3 separate regions of the Homo sapiens genome follow, and regions 1 and 3 are each linked to region 2. Evidence: fine-mapped expression QTL. A gene starts in region 2. Each other region holds a variant in brackets. All regions are shown on one strand. Distances are from middle to middle.

Region 1 (10,523 bases), 23 kb after region 2:
GGCAGGCAGATCACCTGAGTTCGGGAGTTCAAAACCAGCCTGGCCAACATGATGAAGCCCCGTCTCTACTAAAAATCCAAAAAAAAAAAAAAAAAAAAAATTAGCTGGGCATAGTGGTGCATGCCTGTAATCCCAGCTACTGGGGAGGCTGAGGCAGGAGAATCAGTTGAACCCAGGAACAGTGAGCTGAGATTGTGCTGCTGCACTCCAGCCTGGGCACCAGAGCAAGACTCAGTGTCAAAAATCAATAAATAGGCCGGGCATGGTGGCTCATGCCTATAATCCCAACACTTTGAGAGGCCAAGGTGGGCGGATCACCTGAGGTCAGGAGTTTGAGACCAGCCTGGCCAACATGGCAAAACCCCACCTCTACTAAAAATATAAAAGTTAGCCAGATGTGGTGGCGCACAACTGTAATCCCAGCTACTCGGGAGGCTGAGGCAGGAGAATCACTTGAACCCGGGAAGTGGAGGTTGCAGTGAGCCAAGATCGCGCCATTGCACTCCAGCCTAGGCGATAAGAGTGAAAGTCTGTCTCAAAAATAAATAAGTAAATATACAGAAAAAAATTAGCTGGGCATGGTGGCAGCACGTGTAATCCCAGCTACTGGGGAGGCTGAGGCAGGAGAACCAAACTGCAGCCTGGTCAACAGAGCAAGACTCTGTCTCAAAAAAAAGAAGTTACAGAAAGCTGATTATTGGCTGGGCACAGTGGCTCATGCCTGTAATCCCAGCACTTTGGGAGGCAGAGGCGAGTGGATTGCTTGAGGCCAGGAGTTCGAGACCAGGCTGGACAACAGTGAGACCTTCATCTCTACCAAAAAAAAAAAAAAAAAAAAATCTTAGCCAGGTATGGTGGTACACACCTGTGGTCCCAGCTGCTCAAGAGGCTGAGGCAGGAAGATTGCTTGAGCCCTGGAGGTTGAGGCTACAGTTAGCCATGATTGTACCGCTGCAGTCCAGCCTAGGCAATAGTGCAAGACTCTGTCTCAAAAGAAAAGTAGAAATTTATTTCTCAATGAAAAAATGTGTTTCTATTATGTAACTTTTAGATTTAATTTTATTTGGTTGGCTGGAATTACAAATATAATCAGGAGTTGACACAAAGTAATGAGGGCCTAAAATTTGAGAGTTGTCATAGGAATAGAAGGAAGGGAGAAGGGTAAGACACAAAGCAGAGATTGAATAAATAGGATTTAGCATCTTACTGGATGTGAGAGTTTAGGGCAAGAAAGTCATTAAAAGTTGTATAATGAAGGTTTTAATGGAGAGAAACATGACAGACATGTTGATTTTGAGACAATGAGAAAACCACCTCTTTTTTAAAATCTTCAGACACATACCTGTGGCCACTCATTTCCTAACTGCCAACCCTACTTCACTCAATATTATGACTTGTACTTTTAGGGGACGTATAAGAATCTTGAAAAAAGAAGAAAGGATTCAAACTAGGGTTTGCTAACTCCAGCCTTTCCCACTGCACCAAGAAACTACCATGTCACATCATTATATATGATATGTATATGGTATTTTGTTTAGAATTTTTTTTTAGATAGGGTCTTGCTTTGCTGCCCAGGCTGGACTCAAACTCCTGGGCTCAAGTGATCCTCCTGCCTTAGCCTCCTGAGTTGCTGGGATTACAGGCACCAGCTGCTGCACCCAGCTTATATGGTATTTTTATCCAAGAAATCTAGTCATCTTACAAATAACCTTATTCCTAAACATCCCAAAGTGCTTTGGATGTTTACAGTTTTGGTTATAAAATTCATTTGTGGCACGATGCAACATTAACCCCAAGGACAAGGAATATCTACCAAATGATAACTTTCTCCATATGCACAGGGCAAATATGTCATGTGTAATATTAACCAATACATTTTTGCAGGTATTAAAGGTTTGATACACTCAGCATGGACAAGCCATACCAATAGAAAAAAACCACTTTCTATGCTTTAATTCAAAAGGTAATTAGACTATCTTACTTAGTTATCTGTGTGTCATTAGGACCTGAATCATACTGAAAATTAGTGGTTAGTTTATAGTTTCTGAGAATGTATGATCATTACATTGAAATACAATCTCTCTCATGTATACATTTTTCTATCATCATGTGTGAAGCCAGTGACTATGAAATTTTTCATGATCATTTCTTATTTCCTTTTAGATTTTATGTTTACAATAAAAAGAAACGTCTTGTCAACACACCTTACGTGGATAACTCCTATAAATGGGCTGGTGGTGGATTTCTGTCTACAGTGGGTGACCTTCTGAAATTTGGGAATGCAATGCTTTATGGTTACCAAGTTGGGCTGTTTAAGAACTCAAATGAAAATCTTTTACCTGGATACCTCAAACCAGAAACAATGGTTATGATGTGGACCCCAGTCCCTAACACAGAGATGTCTTGGGATAAAGAGGGTAAATATGCAATGGCGTGGGGTGTTGTGGAAAGGAAACAAACGTATGGTTCGTGTAGAAAGCAACGGCATTATGCTTCACATACTGGAGGGGCAGTGGGTGCCAGTAGTGTCCTGCTGGTCCTTCCTGAAGAACTGGATACAGAGACTATAAATAACAAGGTTCCCCCAAGAGGAATCATTGTTTCTATCATATGTAACATGCAATCTGTTGGCCTCAATAGCACCGCTTTGAAGATTGCCCTTGAATTTGATAAAGACAGATCAGACTGATAACCTTAACACCATAGGTGCAAAATGAGTTGTTCTGAGGTTTTTTTGAAACATTAAAGTTCCAAAACATGACATTTTTAAGAATAAATTTGAAATAGAGTATAACTGAATGCAGAGAATTATGTACCTCTAATTGCTTAATTTTGTAATGGTCTTTTATTGTAGAATTGGTTCTTTATACTCAGGGAAGTAATTATATTGTTTTTACTTTTTGAAAAAAGTGTTAACTCTTGAAATAAAATATTCTGATAAAATATGTACTTTCTGCATGTGTAATACAGAGAAAATCTCATTCAACAGGAGCCTCCAAATATCCGAGGTTTTTTTTCTTTTCTTTTTTTTTTTTTTTTTTTTTTGAAATGGACTCTTGCTGTGTTACCCAGCCTGGAGTGCAGTGGTGTGATCTTGGCTCACCACAACCTCTGCTTCCTGAGTTCAAGCGATTCTCCTGCCTCAGCCTCCCAAGTAGCTGGGATTACAGGCACCCACCACCATGCCCAGCCACTTTTTGAATTTTTAATAGAGACAGCATTTCGCCATGTTGGCCAGGCTGGTCTCGAACTCTTGATCTCAGGTGATCCATCCGCCTCAGCCTGCCAAAGTGCTGGGGATTACAGGCGTGAGACACTGTGCCCAGCCCAAATATCCTTTTAATATGAGAGCAGAAACAAAAGCATGAGAAATGGTATATTAGTTATCCACTACAGCTTAAAAGAAACGTTCAGAGAAGGAATCGGGAAATCAGGAGCAATATAGTCACGTGGGTCTGGCGCGGTCTCTAATGAGGTTGCAGACAAGGTGTTATGATCATCTGAAGAATTCTCCAGGGCTGGAGGAAATGCTTCCACATGGCTTACTTGCATGACTGCTGGCAAGAGTCAGTTCTCTGGCTGGTGGGTGGCAAGGGGACTCAGTTTGTCACCACATGGACCTCTCTGTAGGGCTGCTTGAGTATCTTATGGTAGTTGGCTTCCCGCAGAGTAAGTGATGAGACAGAGAGTGCCAGGCAGAAGTCACTCTTTTATAAACTAGCCTCAAGTCACATACCATCACATTTGCCAAATTCCATGGGTTACATGGGGCCTAATAAATGTTGAAGAGATTATATACATTGTGAATATTAGGAGGCAGGAATCACTGGGTGTCAACTTGGAAGTTGGGTACCACAGTCTGACCTCTGGTCCCCAATGATTTATGTCCTTCCCAATGCAAAATACTCTTACCTCCTTTCAAATCCTCCAGAAGTTTCACCTTAATATAGCATCAGCTCAAAGCCCAGTATCTTATCATCTAAATCAGGTCAGGTGCAAGTGTGAATGAGGGCTCCTTGGGATGAGTTCCTTAGGTACAGCAACTCAAGTAGTTTCTCTTAAGACCTGTGAACTGTAGTTATTTGCTCCCCATATGTGTAACATACCGTAGCACAGCAGATATAGGATAATTGCTAGATACCGTCCTCTTCAAAAAGTAGGGAAGTGGAAGACATACAGGAGACTGGCAATTCTGAAATTCAGTCAGACAGAGGTTGGCAACTCTGATTAGTATTCAAGGCTTCAGAATAATTCTTAGTTCTTGGCTATGTTCTCTGGGCTCTTAGTTCTACCTTACGAGTTATACTTTTTCTTTTTTTTAAGAGACAGCTGTTCACCATATTTCCCAGGCTGGTCTTCAACTACTGGGCTCAAGTGATCCACCCACCTCAGCCTCCCAAAGTGCTGGGATTATAGGCATGAGCCACCGCACCCAGCCCCTGAGTTATACTTTTTTTAATTGTTCTTTTTTACTTTTTTTTTTTTTTTTTTGAGACAGGGTTTCCCTCTGTCACCCAGGCTGGAGTACAGTGGCACAATCTCGGCTCACTGCAGCCTTAGCCTCCTGGGTTCAAGCAATTCTCCCACCTCAGCCTCTCGAGTAGCTGGGATTACAGGTGCGTGCCACCACTCCCGACTAATTTTTGTATTTTTAGTAGAGACAGCGTTTCACCATGTTGGCCAGGCTGGTCTCGAACTCCTGACCTCAGGTGATCCGCCCCCCTCGGCCTCCCAAAGTGCTGGGATTACAGGCGTGAGCCACTAAGCCTGGCCGCTTCCCCATACCTTTTTTTCATGAAAGGTAGCGTATCTTTCTAGCTGAGTGGTTTTCTCAGTGTGCTTTCCACTTGTAGAAGTTTGGAGACCCAAAGGCCTTTTTATACTCTCTTTCCTTTCCATCTAAGTTAACAGTGGTTCTGCCAATATAATATTTTATTTCTCTAATTTTTGAATTTTTTTTAGCAACCCTATTAACTGACAATATAATATTTTAAAATGTTAAGAGTATCCTGTGAATTTTATTGGGGTTTATGCCAGTAGACAAAAGCCACCCCAAAGTCCCTTCAGAATATCCCCTCTCTAACTTGGGGCTTGTCTCTGCCAAGATAATGGGAAGAACTAATTACGCTAATAATCTAATGAACTCTATTGTTTAAATAGTTCTCTGAAGCACCATGTTGATTCATTTTGAAGTCTTGAGAAAGGATTGTATAGTCATGCCCTCAATATCATCTTTAGACTATGTTTTCCTGGAAGTGCCCTCAATTATTATCTTTGCCTTGAAGCCATTTCTTAATTTTGGCATCATTTGCAATCTGAAGAGTCTGGGAATTTTTTAAACCATCA[A/G]TTATTAATTCTTTACCAATAGTTCTTCCATTAGCTTATCTTTCTCTTGCATGTTAGTATAAGCAACAAGAATTAAGGAAGCACATTCAACACTGTGTATGGCTCTCTGCTCCTTCTCTTGCCCTGTGACATCCGGGCTCCCCCTTCTCTTTCCGCCATGGTTGTAAGCTTCCTGAGGCCCTCACCAGAAGCACATGCCAGCACCATGCTTCCTGTCCAGCCTGCAGAACCGTGAGCCAAATAAACCTCTTTTTATAAATTACCCAGCCTCAAAACAAAAAAACAAAAAACAACAACAAAAAAAAAAAAACACTGCATATGGAAATCCCATCAGCTAGTCACCCAATTCATTAGGCACATTTTCTGTTTTCTGAGTTACTCCTGGCGACAGTGTTGCTAAATTTTCTGTCAGTACTAAACAAGAATCCCTTCCTCTAATTGCCAATAAGATTTCTCTTACTTTCCTTAAGACTACACCTGCAGCCTCTTCAAAGGCCATACTTCTCAACAATTTCTTCAAGGCTCTTCAGGTTTTCATTAACACTTTCCTTAAAGTCCTTCCAACTTCCATCCGCTGCTCTGTTCCAAATACATACACACATACACACACACACGTAATTTAGATATAATTCACAGTCCATATGCCATAAAATTCTTTAACGTGTACAATTCAGTGGTTTTTAGTATAGTCACGAGATTATGTACCCATTACCACTATCCAATTCATTTTCACCCCAAGAAGAAACCTCATACCCATTAGCATTTGCTCCCCATTCCTCTGTCCTTCCAGCCCCTGGTAACCAGCAATCTACTTTCTATCTCTTTGGATTTGCCTGTTACGGATGTTTCATATAAATGGAATCACACCATATCTGGCCTTCTGTGTCTTGAGCTTTTTCCTGTAGTATAATGTGTATTAGTTATCTATTACTGCATAACAAATTACCCCAAAGCTTATTGTCTCACAGTTTGTGTTTCAGAAATTTGGGGGCAGCTTTGCTGGGTGTTTCTAGCTCAGGGTCTCATGAGTTTGTAGACAAGATGTCAGCAGGGGCTTCAGGCATCTGAGGGAAGGCTTGACTGGGGCTGGATAATCTGATTCCAAAATGATTCACCCACGTGGCCATGGGCAAGAGGTCTTTGTGGCTTGCTGGCTTTGGGCAAGAGTTTTCAGTTTCTCACCACATGGCCCTCTCCATAGGTCTGCTTGTCTGTGCTATGGCTTCCCTTTAGAGCAGGCGATTGAAGAAACAGGGAAACACCTCAATGTCTTTTATAAATCAGCCTTGGAAGCCATATGCCATCACTTATGCCAAATTCTGTTGGTTACAGAAACCAACCCTGATTTGGTGTGGGAGAGGACTGTAGAAAGGAGTGGATACCAGAAGGTTGGGATCATTGGGAGCCATTTTGGAGGCTGCAGTGTTAACGTATTGGGGAATTTTGTTCTAACAGCCACAGATCATGTGTACTAGAGATTACCAGTGTGCCACTGAACTCAGGAAAATTCAAAAAGAAATCAAAGTTTTTATACACCCTAATAAAGGAAGGGCTTTTCTATAATTCTGAGCCCTAAATCTGTTTCTTCCCTTAACACTTTATACAAGTAAATAGATGGATATCTCTGAGTTGGTTGAAGTAGAAAGAGAGCAGCTCTCTAAAACAGATCCATTTCATCTCCTTATTTCTTTCTGACTTCTGATCTCTAGGTCCTGTATTCATGTTTGTCAAGTTTTCAATCCGTGCCCTTAGATAAACATAAAAATGTCATGCCTTTCTTTAATGTTATTTTAACATTAAATGTTTAATGTTTCTTTAATGTTAGTGTTTTATGTTATTTGGAATTTATTTATTTTTTAGAAACAGAATCTTGCTCTGGCACCCAGGCTAGAGTGCAGTGACATGATCGTAACTCACTGTAACCTGGGCTCAAGTGATCCGCCCACCTTGGCCTTCCAAAGTGCTGGGATTACAGGCATGAACCACCATGCCTGGGCCCCCATTTGGAATTTTCTTTTATTTTTATTTATTTATTTATTTAGAGATAGGGTCTCACTCTGTCACCCAGGCTGGAATGCAGTGGTACAATCATGGTTCACTGCAGCCTTGACCTTCCAGCCTCAGGTGATCTTCCCACCTCAGCTTCCTGAGTAGCTAGAAATGCAGGTGCACTCCACTATGCCTGGATAATTTTTTGTAGAGTAGGGGTTTCACAATATTGTCCAGGCTGATCTTGAACTCCTGGACTCAAGCAATCCTCCTGCCTCAGCCTCTCAAAGTGCTGGGATTACAGGCATGAGCTACCGTGCCCGACCACCAATTCTTTGATGGCCACGATTTCCTCTCATTCCATTGTGCATGCAACTTTGCAATGTGATTTTGCTGCTTTTTCCATCCAAAGGTGGAGCTCTTTCTCCACTCTCTTGAATCTGGTCTTGCTTTATGATTTGCTTTTTGACCCACTGAATGTGGTGGAAATAATGTTGCACAAGTCCCACTGCATAGGCTTTAAGTGGCTTTCAAGCTTTTGTCTGCCACCTTCTAAGAACACTACCCCAAGATTGCCATGTAAAGAAGCCAGACTAGCTTACTGAAGGATGGGGGACCATGTGGAGGGGAACAGAGATGCCCCAGCTGACAGCTAGCACCAGCTGCCAGACCTATGATTTGAGCCTCCAGGTGAAGGTGGCTGTGTAAGTGAACCTAGATGAGACCAACAGAGTAAGCAGCCAACTCATATACTCATGAGAAATAGTAATAAGTCAACATTTTAAGCTATTAGATTTGGGGGTGACTTGTTTTGTAGCAAAAGTTAACATATCTATGCTCCAGTGTGGTGGTAAGGTGGGTAAATCACTTTAGGGAAAAAATGGAACATTAAAGTACTTGATGTTGAATAGACATGACTGCTTTCCACTTAAAAAAAAATACCACACAAACTATTTTTTTTTTTTTAAGACACAGTTTCGCTCTTGTTGCCCAAGCTGGAGTACAATGGCGCGTTCTCGGCTCACTGCAACCTCCACCTCCCAGGTTCAAGTGATTCTCCTGCTTCAGCCTCCTGAGTAGCTGGAACTACCGGCACATGCCACGCCCGGCTAATTTTCGTATTTTTAGTACAGACGGGGTTTCATCGTATTGGTCAGGCTGGTCTCAAACTCCTGACCTCAGTTGATCCACCCGCCTTGACCTCCCAAAATGCTGAGATTACAGACGTGAGCCATCGCGCCTGGCCCACACAAACTATTAACAGAGCACTTACTGTGGGGAAGGCATTTTGCTAAGCTCTTTGTATATGCTATCTCATTATACCTTCAACATAACTCTATTAAGTAGAAATATTATTATTTTTTCACAAGGTCACAAACCATTAACTAGCACTTGTTTCAAACCCACACATATCTGACTCTAAAGCCTGTTTTAACCATTATCGTGACTTCCCATAAAAAGCATCTCTAGGCCAACGCAGTAGCTCACACCTGTATTCCCAACGCTCTGGAAGGCTGAGATGGGCGGACCACTTGAGCCCAGAAGTTGAGACCAGCCTGGGCAACATGGTGAAACCCTGTCTCTACAAAAAATACAAAAATAAACCAGGTATGGTGGCATGGGCCTGTAGTCCCAGCTACTTGGGAGAATGAGGCGGGAGGATCACTTGAGCCCAGGAGGCAGAGGTTGCAGTGAGGCGAGATCGCATCGCTGCACTCTCTAGCTTGGGCAACAAAGCAAGACTCTGTCTAAAAAAAAAAAAAAGGCATCTCTAAAAATTTACCAATCCAATAAAAGTCATATTTAATGGCATGCAATTTTATTGATGCAGTCTTCAGTTTAAAAGTTTGTCACATAAAAATGAATAAAAATAAATATGTTGGTATTTTAATTAGTTGGCTACAAATAAAGAAAAAACACAACTTCAAATTAATACAAAGACAAGATAAAGAACATAGAGTCATAATCTTACACAACCCCTCTGTTCTAAATACATAGCATGATATATAAAATGTGTAATGAGAAAATTAAAAAGACTTTCATAGACACAAAACACTGAGCAGGGCTGAAGCTGAGGGTCTGCCGGGCTCTGGTTCAAAAGGCTGTGGCAGCTCCAATTTCTGTTCCTATAGAATAACTGAAACTAACACTGCTTCCCTAAGATTTAAAATGAAAGCTTATTAACTAAATTAGGACTATTCTGCCTAAATTCTTTGAAAGGTGAAGTTTTGCTAGGTGTGAAAGTGAGAGTAGCCCTAGTAGTGTAGGGGGAAAGCGAGCCAGAATCAGTAGGACACAAATCAGCAGAGAAAATTTGCAATTCTGGCATCTCCTTTGAAACAAAATTCAAAGGCTATTTAAGTGTCGATCAATAGCAAACACCATGACCTGATGTCATTTCTTTTTTTTTTTTTTTTTTTTTTTTCTGAGACAGTCTTGCTCTGTCGCCCAGGCTGGAGTGCAGTGGTACGATCTGGGCTCACTGCAAGCTCCGCCTCCCAGGTTCAAGCAATTCTCCTGCCTCAGCCTCCCGAGTAGCTGGGACTACAGGCGCCCGACACCACGCCCAGCTAATTTTTGTATTTTTAGCAGAGACGCGGTTTCATCATGTTGGCCAGGATGGTCTCAATCTCGACCTCGTGATCCGCCGCCTGGGCCTCCCAAAGTGTTGGGATTACAGGCGTGAGCCACCGCGCCCGGCCCCTGATGTCATTTTCTATGCCTATAGTTGTGAAAAAGTAGCTGTAAAATCCTAAAAGAATACAAGGTCATTATTCTATAAAAGTTATCCTTTTCTTTGTAAAATGCAATAATGTACTCTATTCCTTCCAAAGATTTAAGTTTTTTTCCATGGAAAATTACGAAGACATGAGAGGCCGAGGCAGGCGGATCACGAGGTCAGCAGATCGAGACCATCCTGGCTAACACGGTGAAACCCCATCTCTACTAAAAATACTTTAAAAAAATTAGCCCGGCGTGGTGGCACACGCCTGTAGTCTCAGGTACTCTGGAGGCTGAGGCAGGAGAATGGCGTGAACCCAGGAGGAGGAGCTTGCGGTGAACTGAGATTGCGCCACTGCACTTCAGCCTGGGCGACGGAGCAAGACTCCGTCTCAAAAAAAAAAAAAAAAAAGAAAGAAAAAGAAAAAAGAGAATTACAAAGACATAATTTAAGAATCTCAGTTTCC
Region 2 (10,523 bases):
CCATGACTATCTTTTAATTCCTTGAATGAAACCGCCTCTTCCCACCACAAGGCCTTAGCATTTGCTAATTCCTTGCATGGAACACTTCCCTTCTCTTTCTGCCCATACTTAACCAAGGTAATTCCTGTTTATCCTTAAAGTCTTGGATGTAATTTCATTTCATTAGGAAAGTCTTCCTTCATCTCCCAGATCAGATAACATCTCACATTATAACCTCTCAACACAGTATGCACCTCTCCTTCACAGCACTCATTACAACTAGGATTTTACATTTAATCTTGCCGTTCTGTTTATCATGACTCTATTACCGTATAGACTGCAAGTTCCAGGAGGGCTGGGACTATGTCTATTCTGAGTTGTTGGACAGAAGTTTCTATTGGTGTACCAGTGGTTTCTGTCTGAGTCCCACTCAGTATTTTGTTTTGTTTTCCTGAGACAGGGTCTCGCTCTGTCACCCAGGCTGGAGTTCAGAGGCATGATCACAGCTCACTGCAGCCTCGACCTCCCAGGGTCAGCAGTCCTTCCACCTCAGCCTCCCAAGTAGCTGGTAGTCACAGGCCACCATGCCCGGCTAATTTTTTAAAATTTTCTGTAGAGAACGGGTCTCACTATGTTGCCAGGGCTGGTCTCAAACTCCTGGGCTCAAGCAATCCTCCCACCTTGGCCTCCTAGATTGCTGGGTGTGAGCCACCGTGCCCAGCCTATAGTTTAACTTTAAAGCAAGGATGATTAGTCCCTCCCCAAAACTAACCCCCAAGGAGATAAGATGGGTATACACATAAGTAACAATGTTATGTTAAAAATTTGTAAGAGCACTGTGACCTGACAAAGACAAAGAAGCTTACCCTTGCTGCCACCCAGATGTCTGTGGTCACTGGTCACCTTTTGACCTAAGCCTCTTCCCGTTTTCCCCCTCCCCTAACATAAAAGGAGCCCAACATTCACATTTACTTAAGATGCTTCTTTAGGACAGTAGTCTGCCATCTTGGTTTGCTGGCTCCACAGAATAAAGTCATCTTCCCTGCTCCAACGCCTGTCTCTTGACTGATTGGCTGTTGTGTGGTGAGCAGTACAAGCTTTGGACGCAGTTACAGCAGTCCATCAAAACTGTAGCTCCAGCTTCAGAAGAGATGATATTAAAGTTCTCTCATGATCTTTTATTTCCCCAATTTCTGATAAGTGCATTTTCATATTTATATGGTTTTGCTTCATTTATTCCTATTTTGTTTTGTAATTCCTTTTTTGTTGTGTAGATATTATACATTTATTTATCTTTTATATATATTTTCAACAAATATATAAAATATATAAATACACAAATATATAAAAAATATTTTATATATACTTGTTTTATATATTTCAATATATAAAAATATATATTTAAAAATATATATTTGTTTTAAAATATATATATTTGTTTTATTTTCTATCACCCATCTTTTTCTTAGCCAGGGAAAGGCCTCTCTTTTTCCTCTTTTCCTGTATATCCTTCTACTGATTTTATTTTGTTTGGGGTGATTTCACAATTTGGTGGTTGATTTTATTGTCAGTGTTTTTTAGAAAACTTTTAAAAATATGTTTTGGAAACTTGGTTTGCAGATTTATTTTTAGTGGAAAGTTTCTTTCCTTCCCCTTTTCCTCACTTTTTTTCTCTCTTCCCATTCTTCTCCATGTGTAGTCATTTACCTTTTTTATTTATTTTTTTTTTTGAGACAAAGTCTCGCTCTGTCATCTAGGCTGCAGTGCAGTGGCGTGATTTCAGCTCACTGCAACCTCCGCCTCCCGGGTTCCAGTGATTCTCCTGCCTCGGCCTCCCGAGTAGCTGGGACTACAAGTATGTGCCACCATGCCCAGCTAATTTTTGTATTTTTAGTAGAGACGGGGTTTCACCATGTTGGCCAGGCTGGTCTTGATCTCTTAACCTCGTGATCCACCTGCCTCAGCCTCCAAAAGTGCTGGGATTACAGGAGTGAGCCACCGCGCCTGGCCTGTTTACCTTTCTTCTATCTGGTCTCTGCGGCTCCCACCCCAAAGCCAGCTCAAATGCTGGGGCTCTGGGCTCCTGCCCTAGAGTTGTAGTAAAGATCCTGCCAACAAGTCTGCAGGCTGCTTGGTCAGGTTGCCTCCTGGGCACTCAGCTTGCTGGAGAACAATTTATTTTCTGTTACCTTCTGAGAAAAGAAAATAACTTTTATGTGAAGAATGCAAGTCCTTTCAAATTATCAGGCCCAGGGAGACATTAAAATGAGATGGTGGCTGAGTATTGTGGCTCACACCTGTAATCCCAGCACTTTGGGAGGTCGAGGTGGGAGGATCGCTTAAGCCCAGGTGTTTGAGATCAACCTGGGCAACATGGCGAAAGCCCATCTCTAAAAAAAATACAAAAATTAGCCAGGTGTGGTGGTGCATGCCTGTGGTCCTAGCTACTCAAGAGGCTAAGGTGGGAGGATCACCTGAGCCTGGGAGGTTGGGGCTGCAATGAGCCATGATCACGCCACTGCACTCCAGCCAGGGCAACAGAGTGAGACCTTATCTTAAAAAAAAAAAAAAAAAAAAAGAGATGGCATTCATGTCCTACCCCCACAATAAGCTATGTATTCATCTCTTGAAACTGCTTGCTGTTGCCACGAGTAGTTATAAATTAACCTAATAATGGGGCACCAGACGCTAGAACCCATACCCTGTTGCTTAACAATGTATATAGCCAATCATTGTTATTTCTGTAAACCAATGGGGATCCCTGACAAACAACTTTGTATCAGCCCATTCCCTGTCCCCCTTTTTTTGCCTTTAAAGGCAAAGGAGGACAGGGGAGCTCCCCTTAATGGGGAGCTCATTCCAAGTTTCCTTGGGTCTGAGTCTTCAGGGCAGCTGTCCTCACTTTGGCTAAAGTAAAGTCTTTAAATTATATTTTGTGCCTCAGCCTCTTCCTTTTAGGTTAACACTTCCCAGAAGCCATACTTCAAATGGCCTCTCTGTACCTGCTTCTAGACTGGAAGTCCACCAGGACATTGGCTTTTGCCCTGTACATGGCAAACACAGGGCTCTGTTTCTTTTTTTATTTTTTATCCAAGGAGAGGTACAGAAGAGTGCAAAAAACACATATGTGAAACCAGCCCAATTGTCCAATAGAATATGTTTATGGTTTATTTTGAATAAAGAGAGAAAATTGACCTGCCCAGTCTTAAAACTTGAGAAACTTACATTTGTCTTATCTGAGTTCCTTTTGGAGGAAACCAACCATCAGGTCTCCCAGATAGTATCAAGAAACTGAAACTTACCAGATCACCACATTTGGACAATGAGACACCAGATCCTTCACCTGTCATGATTGCCTAACCCAGCGGTTCCCAGCTTTTTTGGCACCAGGGACAGGTTTCATGGAAGAAAGTTTTTCCATGGGGTGTGGGGTTGGGGCTGATGGGTATGGTTTCAGGATGAAACTGTTCCACCTCAGATCATCAGGCATTAGTTAGATTATCATAAGGAGCAAGCAACCTAGATCCCTCACATGCGCAGTTCACAATAGGGTTCGAGCTCCTATGAGCATCTAAGGTCATGACTGATCTGACAGGAGGTGGAGCTCAGGCAATAATGCTCCCTCACCTGCCACTCACCTCCTGCTGTGTGGCCCAGTTCCTAACTAGTCCATGGCCCAGGGGTTGGGACCCCCGGCCTAACCAACCACCTGCTTCCTGTTGAACAATTCTTCTTCCTTATCCCTCCCTATTTCCTGTTTCCCCACACATAGTTACATTTCTTCCTTGCTATATAAACCCCTAATTTTAGTTAGCTGAGGAAATGGACTTGAGACTGAACTCCCGTTTCCCTGGCTGCAGCACCTGAAAAAGCTTTGTTTTCCCCCGGCGATACTCATTGTCTTGGTGACTGGCTTTCTGTGTGGCGAGCAATGGGATCTAGGCTAAACCCTTGGTGTTTCAGTAACATATGTACAGTTTAAAGAAAAATTATGTACAGTTTAAATAAAAGTGGGCACTCATAACCACCACTGACTGCGTCTTTTACATTTTTCTCTTTATATTTTTTCTCTCATGTTCTTGGAGTAGTGGTGACCCCCACCGTGGGAACCTCCAGTACTATCTTAATAGAGTACATCTGTCCACTATAACTGCAGTTTCAGTGTCAAACGCTCTGGGTCCTAGGATATTCTGGTCTCTTGGAGTCTTGGGTTTTGTGAGTAGCCCCAGAAGCTTTACTTATTTAGCCCCACTATTTTCTTGCTAGGTATGGATACCATTATTGCCTTTTCCTCCTATTAAATAATTATTACCTCAATATATTTATTTTGAGGTATGTATATGTTTACTCAGTAAGTTTATTACCTCAATATGTTTGTCCTGATGGCTTGTCAGTTCAAGTCTGTGAGCTCTCTTCTTTATTCCACCTGCAAGAAAAGACAGGGCCATTTTGTATATGGGGCATATTGCCCCAGTGCTGAAGGTATAAAGCCTACAAGCTTTCAAAGATTGTGTGTGTGTGTGTGTGTGTGTGTGTGTGTATGTATGTATCCCAAAATATAAAAATTACAAAACTGATAAATGTTTAAGTAACTTCAAATTAACATATCAATTTCATTACACGTTAAACTAGGATTTTATACACATTTTACATTTTGTAGCAATTTGAGATTAGGTTTCTTATTTCACAAGAATGTCTGATCATTTACAGATGCTGAGAAATCATAGGTAATTGTAAATTATAATAGTTACTTTTGGATTAAAATTTTTCAAGCACGAAATTTTTAAAAAACACTTTATCTTTTATAGCAAAAGAAAGGTAATATAAGGTCTGGATGTAACTTCATGTCTTTGGTACGGTGTGGAGCTAGAATTCCAGAAGCAATAGATTTTAAAACATCTTTAGGGAAATGGGTGAATTGAAATGAGACATAAGGGAGATGGCAAGAGAGTGAAAAGAAGCGCGTTCTAAAGGGGGAAAGGAGAAAGGGAAAGGAAAGGAGAAAGGCATCTCTAAAGGGAAAGGAGATGCCTGCTGAGCGTCTACTGTGTGCCCTGCGCTGTTCCAGAAGTTGAGGATCCAAAACTAAGTCTAGGCTCCCCAAAGAAGTCCCACTCTGGTAAGGAATCTGACAAGTAGTTAAATGATACAAAGTGTTAACTGTTGTTAAAGAAGTGTGCACACTGAGGGGCAAGATGGTAAGGGCGAGAACTCCCATGGGACGGGAACTAGGAAGGCTTCTGGGAGGTGACGCTTGATCTGAGGGTAAGCAAAGGAAAAAAAGGAAAGAGAGACAGAAAGGAAAAACAAGGAAGAGACAAGAAAAGGGAGAGGAAGAAGGGCTCGATGCGATCGGCGCTCGGGTAGTCAGGCGTCGACTGCTAGGGTCTGACCGCGGTCCCCACCCCCGTCCCGCCCCCTGCCCTTCCCTCCGCCCCGCGCCGCGGCTGGCAGGGTGTGCGTGAGTTTGGTGGCGGCCGGCTGTGCAGAGACGCCATGTACCGGCTCATGTCAGCAGTGACTGCCCGGGCTGCCGCCCCCGGGGGCTTGGCCTCAAGCTGCGGACGACGCGGGGTCCATCAGCGCGCCGGGCTGCCGCCTCTCGGCCACGGCTGGGTCGGGGGCCTCGGGCTGGGGCTGGGGCTGGCGCTCGGGGTGAAGCTGGCAGGTGGGCTGAGGGGCGCGGCCCCGGCGCAGTCCCCCGCGGCCCCCGACCCTGAGGCGTCGCCTCTGGCCGAGCCGCCACAGGAGCAGTCCCTCGCCCCGTGGTCTCCGCAGACCCCGGCGCCGCCCTGCTCCAGGTGCTTCGCCAGAGCCATCGAGAGCAGCCGCGACCTGCTGCACAGGATCAAGGTGCGGCCACTGGAGCGGGGGGCGTAGGGGGCCGGGGATCCACCCCTGTCGGCGGTGCTGTCGGGGGCTGAGTGGACCCCACCCGGGGCGGCGGGGTGCCCGCGATCGGCTTCCGAGAAAGACTTCCCATTTCCCCACCGCCGAGCCGTGGTCAGACGCTCTTGGGGGTTCCCCAAATCTGGGTGGAGGTCACCGCCTGTCTCGGGGACCGCCCCTTCCCCCTAGGGGGCGGACAGGCACATCCCTTGCTGTTAGTGAGTGACCATGGCCTGGGACGAGGTGGGCGGGGCCCAGGTGGAGGGGGCGGGGCCCAGGCTCAGGGGGCGGGGCCTTGGAAGGTCCCCGAGGAGAGCGCTGGGCTTTTTCAGCAGGCCCGTAACTGTCGGTTCTTTCCCCTTCGGTCTTAGGATGAGGTGGGCGCACCGGGCATAGTGGTTGGAGTTTCTGTAGATGGAAAAGAAGTCTGGTCAGAAGGTGGGTTCAGAAAATTGTTGTTTTGTTCTGTGCCAGTTGGTAAATAAAATATTGTTTTACTGGTTAGAGTGGATCCCATGAAATGCTATTGCATTTACATAAAACGATGCATATTGTAGAGAAAACATCTAACATAATAAAGAGTCAGGTGTTTTTAAATCACGGTAAGGTTTAAAATGTGACTAATAAATTGGAGTCATGAGGATGGCTACCCACTCCCACTTTTCTCTTAGGACTGGATTTATTAGTCTGAAAGTTTTATACAGTAGTCCCTCCTTATCCTGGGGATATATTCCAAGACCCTCAGTGGATGCCTGAAAAAGTGGATGATATTGAACCCTGTATATACTATATTTTATCTTATATATACATATCTATGATAAAGTTTATAAATCAGGCATAGTAAGAGATTAGCAACAATAATAAAATAGAACAATCACAACAATACTCTGAGTGGCATGCAATTTAAAGCTTACGAATTGTTTATTTCTGGAATTTTCCATTTAATACTTTCGGACCATGGATAACTGAAACTGAGGAAAGCGAAACCACAGATAAGGGGTAACTACTGTGTAGAACAATCCATTAACTGAGTACTTGCAGGTAACACTTATGGGTAGATAAAACTCAGAATTTGTGAAGTTTTCTTTTTTAATTAAGTTAACAATTTCTTGAGGCCTCTCTTCCGTAAAAAGCAAAGTGCTAAGTACTGGGGTTATACACTATTGTAGGGACCAGCCCCACAGGGTCGGTGGGTCTCTCCCTGTGTGCGGCGACGAGAGAGTGTAGAAATAAAGACACAAGACAAAGAGATAAAAGAAAAGACAGCTGGGCCCGGGGGACCGCTACCACCAATGCGCGGAGACCGGTAGTGGCCCCGAATGTCTGGCTGCGCTGTTATTTATTGGATACAAAGCAAAAGGGGCAGGGTAAAGAGTGTGGGTCATCTCCAATGATAGGTAAGGTCACGTGGGTCACGTGTCCACTGGACAGGGGGCCCTTCCCTGCCTGGCAGCCGAGGCAGAGAGGGAGAGGAGACAGAGGGAAAGACAGCTTATGCCATTATTTCTGCATATCAGAGACTTTTAGTACTTTCACTAATTGACTACTGCTATCTAGAAGGCAGAGCCAGGTGTACAGGATGGAACATGAAGGCGGACTAGGAGCGTGACCACTGAAGCACAGCATCACAGGGAGACGGTTAGGCCTCCGGATAACTGCGGGCAAGCCTGACTGATGTCAGGCCCTCCACAAGAGGTGGAGGAGCAGAGTCTTCTCTAAACTCCCCCGGAGAAAAGGAGACTCCCTTTCTGGTTCTACTAAGTAGCGGGTGTTTTTTCTTGACGCTCTTCGCTACCGCTAGACCACGGTCCGGCTGGCAACGGGCGTCTTCCTAGATGCTGGCGTTACCGCTAGACCAAGGAGTCCTTCTGGTGGCCCTGTCTGGGCGTAACAGAACGCTCGCAGTCTTGTCTTCTGGTCACTCCTCACTGTGTCCCCTCAGCTCCTATCTCTGTATGGCCTGGTTTTTCCTTGGCTATGATTATAGAGCAAGGATTATTATAATATTGGAATAAAGACTAATTGCTACAAACTAATAAGATTAATGATATATATAATCATATCTAAGATCTATATCTGGTATAACTATTCTTGTTTTATATTTTATTATACTGGAACAGCTCGTGTCCTCGGTCTCTTGCCTCAGCGCCTGGGTGGCTTGCCGCCCACACACTATTCCTTGTCTTTAATGACTTTTCAGTCTACTTTATTAGGCTTTTTAACCAGGTAGAGGTGTCATCTATTTTTTTCAAACAGAAGGCAAAAAACTTAGGGAGAGGGATTTCTATTCATTTTATGATACTTTTATCAAGGCATTATTTTTCATAACTTCTCTGTTGCACAGAAATTGATCTAATTGGTCATCCTAGGTTTCTAGGAGTCCCACTTTTAGAAAATGATGTTTCAGGCCAGGTGCAGTGGCTCACGCCTGTAATCCTAGCACTTTGAGAGGCAGAGGCAGGTGGGTTGCCTGAGCTTAGGAGTTCGAGACCAGCCTGGACAACGTGGCAAAACCCCATCTCTACTAAAAACACAAAAAATTAGCCAGCCATGCTAGTGCGTGCCTGTAATCTCAGCTACTCGGGAGGCCAGGATACGAGAATCGCTTGAACTCGGGAGGCGGAGGTTTGCAGTGAGCCAAGATCGTTCACTGCACTCCAGCCTGGGCAACAGCGAGACTCTGTCTCAAAAAAAAAGAAAAAAAAATGTTTCATATGCCATTTAAAGGCAGTAAGTTGATGGGCGCAGTAGGGGTTTGAATTTGAAGAAAAATGGGCCAGTTGAGGTGGCGCACGCCTGTAATCCCAGCGCTTAGGGAGTCCAGGGAGGAAGGATGGCTGAAGACCAGAAGTTTGAGACCAGCTTAGGCACCATAGCGACACCTGTGTCTCTATAAAAAAAATTTTATTTATTTATTTTTTTTTTGGAGTTTCACTCTTGTTGCCCAGGCTGGAGTGCAATAGTGCGATCTCAGCTCACCACAACCTCCACCTCCCAGGTTCAAGTGATTCTCCTGCCTCGTCCTCCCGATTAGCTGGGATTACAGGCATGCACCACCACGCCTGGCTAATTTTTGTATTTTAAGTAGAGACGGGGATTCTCCATGTTGGTCAGGCTGGTCTCGAACTCCCGACCTCAGGTGATGCGCCTGCCTCGGCATCCCAAAGTGCTGGGATTACAGGCGTGAGCCACCGTGCCCAGCTTAAAATTTTTTAAAAAAGGAAAATGATTCTTCCTTCAAGTATAAGTATAATCTAATCATTATACCTAATTTATGATAAGTCTTGTAATCAAAAATTATATAAATGTCAGCTTTATGGACTTTATGCAAATATTTTTTAGATATTTAAGATTATACAAATTTATAGTCATTGTATTCCTTTTCTTTTCAGATCTCTGTTCTCTTTTTATTTATTTATTTATTTATTTTTTGGACAGGGTCTCTTACTGTGTCTCCCAGGCTGGCGTGCAGTGGTGTGATCTTGGCTCACTGCAATCTCAAACTCCTGGGCTCAGATGATTCTCCCACCTCAGCCTCCTGACTAGCTGAGACTACAGGTGCACTCCACCACGCCAGGCTTTTTTCTTTCTTTCTTTCTTTTTTTTTTTTGTATATTTTGTAGAGATGCGGTTTCTGCCATGTTGCTCAGGCTAGTCTCGAAATCCTGAGCTCAAGTAATCCACCCGTCTCCGCCTCCCAAAGTGCTGGGATTGCAGGCACTTTCTCTTTCTTAGTTAGATTTACGCACTTTCAGCCTGTGAGAACATGGAAACCAAATTTAAAATTTTTTCTAGAAAAAGCTTTAAGTTAGTACATAATTTTCCTCCTGGTTTGCAGTCGAATTAAATTGATGGTTAGCTAGATTTGGTTTGCAGGACATCTTTTCACACATTTTTGAGACAGTTTCACTTTGTCGCCCTGGCTGGAGTGCAGTGGCGTTTTCTCAGCTCACCGCAACCTCTGCCTCCAAGGTTCAAGCGATTCTCCTGCCTCAGCCTCCCGAGTAGCTGGGATTACAGGCACACGCCACCATGACTGGCCAATTTTTGTATTTTTAGTAGAGACGGGGTTTTACCATGTTGGCCAGGCTAGTCTTGAACTCCCAATCTCAGGTGATCTGCTCACCTTGGCCACCCAAAGTGCTCAGATTATAGGCATGAGTCACCATGCCCGGCCCACACTTACTTTTATTGAGTGGCTATTTCAAGGAATTCAGTGGAAATTTACTCAAAAGTCAAAAATAAATATAATCTGAAGAAGAATAATGATGTTTTCTTTAAAGAATACTTTATTTAAAATGTGGAATAACTCAGTTGTTTAGATAAGCTAAGAAAAATTTGTATCTAAGTCATAGAAAATTGCTATTGCAAACAGGGTACAATTTCACTTTAGTTATAAGGTTAAATTGTTAGGCTTACCGATATACTAAGATTTTAATCCTTTACATGTCCAGTGTTAAGTAACTTATAAAAGTGGAGTATCTTTTCTTTTAGATAAACACAGCATGTTTAAAGATAGTATTATTTCAGGGTTTGAAAACTTGTTTGACCATGAAGCCTGTTAATAGTGACTTTTTGCTTTTTTCCCCCAAAGGTTTAGGTTATGCTGATGTTGAGAACCGTGTACCATGTAAACCAGAGACAGTTATGCGAAT
Region 3 (10,523 bases), 57 kb after region 2:
TCATTGCCCTCTGAGGTAGAGCTGAATTAGTCTGCTTATTTTACAGCTGACAAAACAGACAGAAAGGCTTAAGGATTTGCTGAAGTGAAGTGGGGTTCAATCAAGGAAGCCTGGCATGATTCCCTTTCTAGTTCATTCTTCTTCTCCTGGAGGAGGACTTCAAAATGCCTAGCTCCTAACTCTGAGCAGCTAAAGGAAGCCAAGTGGGAAGAGAAGCTTGGCAGAGCAGCCGTGGCGATCTAGAACAGAACATCAGTGTGAGGTTTGGATGATGTGAGCACAGCCAGGTCATGTTTTCCTGATTCTCAGTGGATATTACACACATGCGCGCGCAAGCACACACACACACATGCGCACACGCACACACACATACACACACACACACACACACAGTTTCCCTTGTTGGGTCAGGGAGCAGAAGGATGTTGGAACGTAGTTGGAGCGCTGGTTGGCAGCAATGCTCTGTTTGACCTGGTGGCAAAGTGGCCCACCCATTACCCACACTCCAACCACTTACCAGAGCCTTTATATTAGAATTTTAAACACACTCAAAATCAAACACATTCCAAGGACAGGCCCCATTTTGTGGGGCATGGAGCAAGAATGAAAATGAAAACCAACATATCATATGTCTAAATATTTAAAAATTCTAGCCAAAGCTAACAAACTTGGGTTTCCTACCTTGACAGATATACCTTTACAATGATGCAGATAATTGGTTTGAATTTAGAATATTTCAGCTCCTTAGAGGTCCATACCAAAACGTGGTGGCCCAGGAGAGCAGCCCTGGCCCAGAACAGTGCCCTTCCTTCACCCCTCAAATTGGGCCCACATCATGAAGGGCCTCACACACACACGATGTGGATTCCAGCCCATATGTCCAAGCGCTGGCCATATCATCACCCCCTTTTGGTGGCCACTTGGGGCTATGGCCCAATTGTACAGTCCACCCTCAGAAGGATAGATCAGGGCTGGGTGCAGTGGCTCACACCTGTAGTCCCAGTACTTTGGGAGGCTCACTTGAGGTCAGGAGTTTGAGACCAGCCTGGCCAACATGGTGAAAACCCGTCTTTACTAAAAATACAAAAATTAGCTGGGCATGGTAGTAGGTGCCTATAATCCCAACTACTCGAGAGGCTGAGGCAGGAGAATCACTTGAACCCTGGAGGTGGAGCTTGCAGTGAGCTGAGATTGCGCCACTGCACTCCAGCCTGAGCAACAGAGCAAGATTCAGTTTCAAATAAAAAATAAATAAAAAAGGCCGAGCACGGTGGCTCATGCCTGTAATCCTAGCACTTCGGGAGGCCGAGATGAGTGGATTGCCTCAGCTCAGGAGTTCAAGACCAGCCTGGGCAACACGGTGAAACCCTGTCTCTATTAAAATACAAAAAATTAGCCGGGCGTGGCCATGTGTGCCTGTAATCCAAGCTACTTGGGAGGTTGAGGCAGGAGAATTGCTTGAACCCCGGAGGTGGAGGTTGCAGTGAGCTGAGATCACACCACTGTACTCCAGCCTGGGTGACAGAGCGAGACTCCGTCTCCAAAAAATAAAAAAAGAAGAAAAAGAAAGAAAGAAAGATCGATCAGGAGAAGAGGCCCATACCAATCCTGGAAGCAGGGCCATTGGCAGGGAATCCTGAGTTCTGGGTACCTGGAATGTAGCCTAAAAAGATGGCATGGCTCTGGGTGAGTAAATCCACTTAGCCTGTAAACTCCTTGCCCAGTGGAGAGGACTGACCAGAAGAGAACAAGGGTAGCATAGGGCTCTCTACACAGTGGGCCCCAGGGGAAGAGGCCCCTCTTGCCAAGACCTAAGAGCAAATCATATCTGGCCAAATAATAAATAAGCCAAAGATGTGAGTTAATAGAGTCTGCACAAATCTGGGTACCATTATTTCTACCTCAACTATACAACACAAAGGCATGAGCTGTTTCAATATTTTATCTGCTACCTCCAATAAATAACTTACTTATTCTGGGCAGTAGGCATTATCTCCAGTAGGTATAAGGGCCAGAGAACAAATGAATGAGCTCCATAAGTAAATATTTTACTGCTAAGGTTGCACTCCCATACAAAACCAGACATCAAAACTCTAGAGGATGATCCTAAGGTCAGTGCCACTGCTGCTGCCTCCCCAGAATGGACCAAGGGGGTGGAAGAGAAGCTTGATTCCCTGGACTGCTGGGCATTGCTTTTTGTGGGGGTTGCTTGGGTCAGTCAAGGTTGTGAGGAGCTGTCAGACAAAACAGCTTCTGTCCACATCATTTCCTTCAGAATCAGGGTCATGATCACAGTCCTGGCTTTGAGATGCAAAGAAGCTAAAATTATGAGCTTCCTTATTGTTCCCCCATATCTCAGTTTTGCATAATAATTTACAACATTTAATATTAAGGGAAATATGTCCACATGTAAAAAGTATTTTCATCACCAAATTCTCAAGGCAAAAGATGTAAGGAAATGTGTACAATGTTTATTTGGATGCAAATTCGTTGTTGTGTGTTCAAACGTTAACAGCATTGAATTCTGGATTCTCGGCTCAGGCGAGGGTTAGTTCAACTTTCTCCAACAATACTGTTCATAATATATGAAGGATACATTCCTTAATGATCTTTGGAGGTTGGTTATATAATTTAATTTCCTTAAAGTTTTTGTTTTGTTTTATTCTGTTTTTGAGACGGAGTCTCGCTCTGTCGCCCAGGCTGGAGTGCAATGGCACGATCTTGGCTCACCGCAACCTCCGCCTCCCAGGGGGTTCAAGTGATTCTCCTGCCTTAGCCTCCCAAGTAGCTGGGATTACAGGCGCCCATGCCCAGCTAATTTTTGTATTTTTAATAGAGACAGGTTGGCCAGGCTAGTCACGAACTCCTGACCTCAGGTGATCCAAGAGCCTTGGCCTCCCAAAGTGCTGGGATTACAGGCATGAGCCACCACACCCGGCTTCCTTTAAATTTTTTCGCTTTTCATATGGAGGTAGAAACAGAGCCCAAATCAGAATTTAAAAGTTGGTTCAGACTAGTAGGTGGTGGTCACTTCTGGGGTGTAAACAGGCAGGTTCTTTTCCTACCCCCTTCACCTTCTCCCCAACAGATCCACTATCTGTTCAGATAGAGCCATTCTGGAAAGCTAGGGACAATTTTTATTCCCTGACTAATCCCATTTTTGGTTGTCACTTGGCAACTTGGTCTATATTGCAGCCTGTACAAGCATCCAGCTTCCCGAAGGCATCCCTGAAACCTCGCTCAATGCAGTTCAGGTTCCCATGTCATCTTGATTCATCCTCCTTGCTCATCCATTTAAGGTGAATTGTGGGTCTAAAGTAGGTGACTCAACGCTGGTCAGCAAGACCTTGCTGGGATGGTTCACCCAAGAGCATTGCTCTTAGGTGATGCTGTTGATTGCTAGTAAAACCCAATGTCATTGATACTGAGTGTGGTAACCTTCCATGTATCAACAATAGTTAGGGAATTAGGTGTTCTAATACACTGGGTAATCCACTTAATTATAGACTACCAGTGTCTAAATAAATATAAACTAGTTTTGAAATAACTATAAGGCTGCGCGCAGTGGTTTATGCCTGTAATCCCAGCACTTTGGGAGGCCGAGACGGGTGGATCACTTGAGGTCAGGAGTTCAAGACCAGCCTGGTCAACATGGTGAAACCCCATTTCCACAAAATAATAAAAAAATTAGCCAGGCGTGGTGGCGCGCTCCTGTAATCCCAGCTACTTGGGAGGTTGAGGCAGGAGAATTGCTTGAACCTGGGAGGCAGAAGTTGGAGTGAGCGGAGATTGCACCACTGCACTCCAGCCTGGGCGACAGAGTGAGACTCTGTCAAAAAAAAAAAAAAAGAACTATAAACTAGCACCACAGTACATTACCAGTATATCATAATTCTACCTAGTATTTTAACTATTTAAGTGTGGGTCCCACCTCCCATGAAGGCCATGTGCTTCTTACGGAGTGGTCTGTGTCAGTTCATCTTTATTCCTCTTATGGTATCTAGTAAGTTGCTTTATATATTGTAGGTGCTAAAAGAGCTTTTGTTGAATGAAACTATAGAACACAAACTATCATTTACTAACATGACTTAATCCTGTGATGACTCAGAAGGCCCTCCAGGATCACACATTTCTTCAAGGTTGTTATTATGTGTGTTATCTATGGGGATGTTTAAACACAGACCAAGTGGTTGAAAGGGGAATTCTGCAGTGCCTGGAAGATAGGACTTGATAACTACCAGCTCATTCCAATTCTGTGTGTATGTATTGAAGAGTCAAATATAGAAATGATCTCATTTATTATCACCTGAATGAAACATGTTTATGAAACCAAGAGATTACAAGTGAAAACTGTCAAATAGCCTCTGTTAATAAGCCTTAACCAGAATTCATGGTCCTTGACCATGATAAGTCAATTAATCTGAAAAGGTAGGATTCCATTAGTGCTGTGAGTGAATTATTACCATTATTTAATTTTATTAAAACCTGCTCATTAGATTGTAATTTACTAATTAATGCAAACATATTTGTCACTATGTGGCTAATATATGCCAAGCCTGTGTTAGTCAGTCATTAGGGATACAATGTAAATATAATTCATGCCCTCAAGAAATTCAAATAATTTCTCTGTAAAAACACTTCATTGTGCAGATCATTTTTACAGCACTTTAAATGTCAATGTGGGAAATTAGCCTGGGTGTGATATGACCCTCTAACCTAGCCTATAATTCATTCAAAATACAGAACAATACAAAGCAAAAAATGCCAGTTAGTTTAATTACTTGACATTAGTCTTTTTCTCAAAAACACAATATACAGAATGTTCATTCAGAATTCTGGGTAAATATGCTTCTGCACAGATGATTTTAATTTCAGGTTAGTACAACATCTGCCAGTCCCCCAGAGCTTGAGGGTGAAGCAGCTTCCCCAGGTGTGGAGGAGAGAGAGCCATCACAGCGCCCCACCCTCTTCTCTGATCTTTCTGTGGATCTGACAGTGACAGAGGCGGCAGCAGGGAGCCCTGCCCTGGGACTCAGGAGAAGCCTGGGAGCAGGGACGGGTGTTCTCAGTCCAGTCTGTCAGGAATTCTGGGAATGGATGCTGCCGTCTTTCCTCACAGCTTCCTGTAAACATGCTGATTTTCAACTTGATAGTAGGACTTTGCTATTTAGTGTTTTCATATCTAAAACTAAGGGGTTAGGTTTCGAGGGGTGGCTTAGCCTCTAATCTCAGCACTTTGTGAGCCCGAGGCAGGTAGATCACTTCAGGCAAGGAGTCTGAGACCAGCCGAGGCAACATGGTGAAACCCCATCTCTACCAAAAAAATATAAAAATTAGCTGGGCGTGGTGGTGCGGGCCTGTGGTCCCAGCTGAGGTGGAAGGATACCTTGAGCCGAGGTGAGAGGATACCTTGAGCCGACGTGAGA[G/T]GATACCTTGAGCCCAGGTGAGAGGATACCTTGAGCCGAGGTGAGAGGATACCTTGAGCCTGGGAGGTAGAGGTTGCAGTGAGCCAAGATCATGCCACTGCACTCCAAGCTGGGTGACAGAGAGAGACCCTGTCTCAAAATAAATAAATTTAAAAAAAATAAAAATAAAAATAAGGGCCGAGTGCGGTGGCTCTCACGCCTGTAATACCAGCACTTTGGGAGGCCAAGGCGGGTGGATCACCTGAAGTCAGGAGTTCAAGACCAGCCTGGCCAATATGGTGAAACCCATCTCTACTAAAAATACAAAAAATTAGCCAGGTGTGGTGGCGGGCGCCTGTAGTCCCAGCTACTCGGGAGGCTCAGGCAGGAGAATCGCCGGAACCCAGGAGGCAGAGGCTGCAGTGAGCCGAGATGGCGCCACTGCACTCCAGCCTGGGCGATAGAGTGAGACTCTGTCTCAAAAAAACAAAAACAAAAAACGAACAAACAAGCAAAAAAAAGGGTTTGGATTAAATGAGTTTCCTAACATACAGTCTGAGGACACAAGCCCCATAAGATGCGCCATCAGAATGGAGTGTGGGAAAAGCCGTGTGCCACACCTTGCGGTGGAGACTCACAGCTGCGCCTCTGCATACTGACGTCAGAGAAGCCGCACCATCTAAACAACTGATAGCAGCATTTCTCAAAAAGCTTAGCCCTGAAATCTTTTCTTCTTGTATCACCTGCTAGCATCTGCTGACTCACTTAGCGTTCTGAGGTACACATTTTGAGAAACCCTGGAATACATCTCTATAGTCATTGGATTTTTGTTTTGTTTTTTCTCGAGATGGAGTTTCGCCCTGTCACCAGGCTGGAGTGCAGTGGCGCAATCTCGGCTCACTGCAACCTCTGCCTCTGGGTTCAAGCAATTCTGCTGCCTCAGCCTCCTGACTAGCTGGGATTACAGGCACCCGCCACCACGCCCGGCTAATTTTTGTATTTTTAGTAGAGACGGGGTTTCTCCCCGTTGGCCAGGCTGGTGTCGAACTCCTGACCTCGTGATCTGCCCACCTCAGCCTCCCGAAGTGCTGGGATTACAGGTGTGAGCCACCGCACCCGGCCTAGACATTGGTTTTTATGGCCTCTTTTTTTGAGACGGAGTCTCGCTCTGTTGCCAGGCTGGAGTGCTGTGGCGTGATATCAGCTCACTGCAACTTCCAACTCCCTGGTTCAAGCGATTCTCCTGCCTCAGCCTCCCGAGTAGCCGGGATTACAGGCACGCACCATCACGCCCAGCTAATTTTTGTATTTTTAGTAGAGACGGAGTTTCACCATGTTGGCCTGGATGGTCTCAATCTCCTGACCTCGTGATCCGCCTGCCTTGGCCTCCCAAAGTACTGGGATTACAGGCGTGAGCTACAGCGCCCGGCAGGTTTTTATGGCCTCTTAAAGCAAGAAGTAGTCTTAGAAGTCAGAGGTCCATTGAGGTTAGGTAGCCTGTCAAGGATCTCAGTTAGTCACTGGGCAGACTAGGTCCCTTTCATCTGTCAATTTCTTACATTTGTATTCTCATAACCTTGATGGATACAATTTTACTGTGAGGAAAGCTAGAAAAAGCATCAGCAATTGAAATCCACAGACAATTCCTAAGCCCCAGAGTTTCCACTTTTGGGTGAGCCCTGTTGGTTGAAGTGACTCCTGATTAAGCAAAAGTGATTAGAAATACTATATTTTCTAATGATGACTGTCTACAGGCTAGTGGAGGTGTTACTGAATAGAGACTTATACACAATTCAAGAAGCCACTGAGAAGAGGGAAAGCAGAAACAAACAGTATGGAGTCCAGAGCCCAAGTAATTAGCTCCTGGTGATGAAAAGTAAATTAATTTTTTTGATACTGGGCTCAAGGAGATCCTCTGATTTTTTTTTTTTTTTTTTAAGTACTAAGTATAAGTCACAGATTCAGTTGGCGTCAGATCTTGAAAAAGAGATCTGATACTTTCTATACTGACCTTAAAGCCTAGTCTCCTGGATAGGGTCTCCTTTTTGCCAGCTCGAAAAAAATCTCACACATCTCTTCACTTGGTCTTTGCCTTGAGTTAAAAGAACAAAAATAATTTTAGGCTTTAATCTCTTTTTATGCAGTTTACTTGCAAAAAATTATTTAAGTTGGTGGCTAAGTAAACAATGGTATTCTCTCAGCAGTTAATTCCACTGGCTTTTCCACAGTCCCAACTATAGTATAGCCTAGCCCCAAAGTAATTAAAGAAGCAAGCAATTTGCGTTCTTTTTCTACAAAACTACTCTTGAGTAGCAGATGGCAAACACAAATGTTTTGCTCTAGAGACATATGGAAACCTCTCTGTTTCATAAAAGCCTCAATAAATATTAAACCCCAAATGATGCCATTCATTGCAGAAATAAAATGTGATAATCCCCCAAACAGCCTAATTAGACCATATAGCTACTTGAGTTTCAGAAAGCAATAGGTGGGAAATTACTATGTGATTGGGATTTCATTCGCAGTTTCTCTTAATCTGAATATTCAACCTGGCCCAAAAGAATCACCTATTCAGCCTTATTTATTCAGCATTCTATTAGGTTATCATCATCATTTATGCTTGTAATTTTAAAAGTGAATAATCAAAGAATCCTGCTTGATTTCATATTAACTCTTCAGTTCTGTCTGAACCAGTGAGAGCAAGGAATTTCACAAAGGGAGAGGGTGTTTTATCACAGGTTCTGGAGCAATTCAACATGTTCCCTGATTAACTCTGTTTATAATCCCTTGCTGCTGTTAAACCAGGAAAAAAAAAAAAGTCAGAGCCAGGTGCAGTAGTGTGCACCTGTAGTCCTAGCTACTCAGGAGGCCGAGGCAGGAGGATCACTTGAGCTCCGGAGTTTGAAGTTACAGTGAGCTATGATCGTGCCTGTGAATAGCCATGCACTCCAGCCTATGGAACATTGTGAGACCCTGCCTCTAAATATATATACATGTCTATGTTTAAGGTTATTCGGGAAATGATTATGATTATTCATATTAAGTAGGAATTGCAGGAAGAAATCTGATTGGAGTTGGCTCAGAATAATGCAGAATTTCATTTTTCTCTTAACCCAGTAATTTGGCAACCCAACAAATCATTGTTGCTATCTCAGGACTGAAACTTGGTGCTCCTTGGAAAGAGAGAAGCAATGATAACTGAGTCATAAGGGTGAATTGAATGTTGTTTAGAACAAGGAACTAAGTATCTTGGGCTCCTTTCCCGGCTCCACACCCTACATAGCCTCAATGGGACTCACAAGACCTCTGAGGTTGCTGATAAATCCCCTGATTCACCAGGGTGTTTGGGTGGCTTGGGAGACTATTGTGTGAAAGATCAGAACTTCCAGGTCTCAGGACATCTGTTATCGGGGCCTGGATTCAAGAGCTCAAAGGATTTTACAGATGGGAATGGATGATTTCATTCAGTTCCTCCCATTTTACAGTTAAGGAAACTGAGGCACAGAAATGCTGTGCTTGTTTAAGGTCACAGAACTATTTAGTAGCAGAGGGGAAACAGAACTCAGGTCATCTGATGCTAAGTTCAGTCCTTTTGACAATAACAAAGTCCCAGGACAGATTTGTCAGAGCCTGATAGAATAATTAGAAAGTTTGCTTCAGGAACCATTTAAGGGTATAAAGCCCATTTTAAAGTCTTTGCTGCCAAAATGGGCTTTATACCGTCAGCTGATTCCTGAAGTAGCGCAGAAAAGGGGCCAGGTGTCAAAGTGCTTTGGTTAATTCTGGCTTTGGGTTACCCATTCCCTCCTCAAGGAGGCCATATTTCCTTCTTCCCAGTTAAGCATCAACCCATCTGTTTAGAGAATGACAAATCACACTTTTTCTGGATTCAGTTCTGTGATTTCTCCAATGTAATCAATCACTTGGTAGTACTTGACACAAATATCCATGTGATGGCCAAGCATCGTGGCTCACACCTGTAATCCCAGCACTTTGGGTGGCCGAGGTGGGCGGATCACCAGAGGTCAGGAGTTCGAGACCAGCCTGATGAATACGGTGAAACTCTGTCTCTACTAAACACACAAAAATTAGCCAGGTGTGGTGGCATGTGCCTGAAATCCTAGCTACTCAGGAGGCTGAGGCATGAGAATTGCTTGAACCCGGGAGGCAGAGGTTGCAGTGAGCCGAGATCGTGCCATTACACTCCAGCCTGGACAATACAATGAGACTCAGTCTCAAAAACAAGCAAACAAATATCCATGTGCATTTGACACGTAAACACAGATGGTGCTCATTTGTTTCCCAGCCTTATCTTCTCCAGTCTTCACTAATAGAACCCTGTGTTTAGGGTGAGGCTGACTCTACACCCAGTCCCAGTGGCTTACATCAGTTGACAGAGGCCACTCTCTTGGGCCCTGCATAGGTTCAGGGAAGGGCAGTCAAGGCCCATGGAACTCAATTCCTGGGTATTTATTTGAACTTTTGGGGAAAAGGATTCTCTACATTCTGCTCTGTTTGAATCTGGAAGCAAGGAGCCCTAGGAGTTTCAGGAAGACATTTTGCAACCACATGGGGCTAGCCTATTGAAATAAGTGCTATCTTGAAGACGTGTTGCTAAGATGCTGACAAAGAGAAGCCAAGAACTGGGCATGTAATTTGAGCTACTAGATTAAGTCTCACCTGTCACTAGGCTTATATCTGATAATTCTAGTTTAGGGTTAAATATATTTATGGTTTAAATCAGTATTTTTATTTAGGTCATTTAGTATTCTGTTATTTACTACCATAAGAATCCCAATACCTGTTCTGATGCTGATTGTGAGTTTCAGCACATCTTGACTTTGCTATTGGATAAGAGTCCATTTTAAAGTTGGCCCCAAAAGACTTAAAAAAAAAACCAAAAAAAACAAACAAAAAACCTCAAGTTTACAAGAAGCTCTACCCAAAAAGCTCTACCCAAAATGCATAGTCCTTATTGCACGTCTTACTTTACACAAAATCCCACAAAATAGCAATGCCTAGCTTAATGAAATGAATGAATTTTGCTAATATTTTATTGTCAGCAACTTTATTACCAGAGAAAGAAATAATATAAGAGGTATTAGAATGAATTCCTTC

The links. PIP is the estimated chance that this variant, and not a neighbour inherited with it, causes the effect.
Region 1: its variant is fine-mapped to the expression of LACTB in whole blood (INTERVAL, PIP above 0.99).
Region 3: its variant is fine-mapped to the expression of LACTB in left ventricle (GTEx, PIP above 0.99).

What each region holds. Positions count from the first base shown.
Region 1 is chr15:63,139,117-63,149,639 of GRCh38, forward strand. It overlaps LACTB (lactamase beta), which reads left to right. Exons shown (of 6, transcript NM_032857.5): 6 at 2,164-2,945. The coding sequence ends at 2,689. It overlaps RPS27L (ribosomal protein S27 like), which reads right to left. Exons shown (of 4, transcript NM_015920.4): 4 at 9,133-10,523. Among named protein-coding and RNA genes, the nearest start is that of RPS27L, 13 kb to the right of the region's middle. The variant A/G (reference allele first, on the strand shown) is at 5,347.
Region 2 is chr15:63,116,397-63,126,919 of GRCh38, forward strand. LACTB (lactamase beta) reads left to right here and starts at 5,465. Exons shown (of 6, transcript NM_032857.5): 1 at 5,465-5,832; 2 at 6,240-6,306; 3 at 10,463-10,523. The coding sequence starts at 5,476. It overlaps LOC107984798 (a long non-coding RNA gene), which reads right to left and starts at 5,371. Exons shown (of 2, transcript XR_001751584.1): 1 at 4,344-5,371. RefSeq lists silencers at 5,354-5,933, 5,954-6,023, 6,034-6,223.
Region 3 is chr15:63,173,193-63,183,715 of GRCh38, forward strand. It overlaps LOC101928972 (a long non-coding RNA gene), which reads right to left. Exons shown (of 4, transcript XR_932355.4): 3 at 7,417-7,497; 4 at 4,875-5,123. Among named protein-coding and RNA genes, the nearest start is that of RAB8B, 11 kb to the right of the region's middle. The variant G/T (reference allele first, on the strand shown) is at 5,427.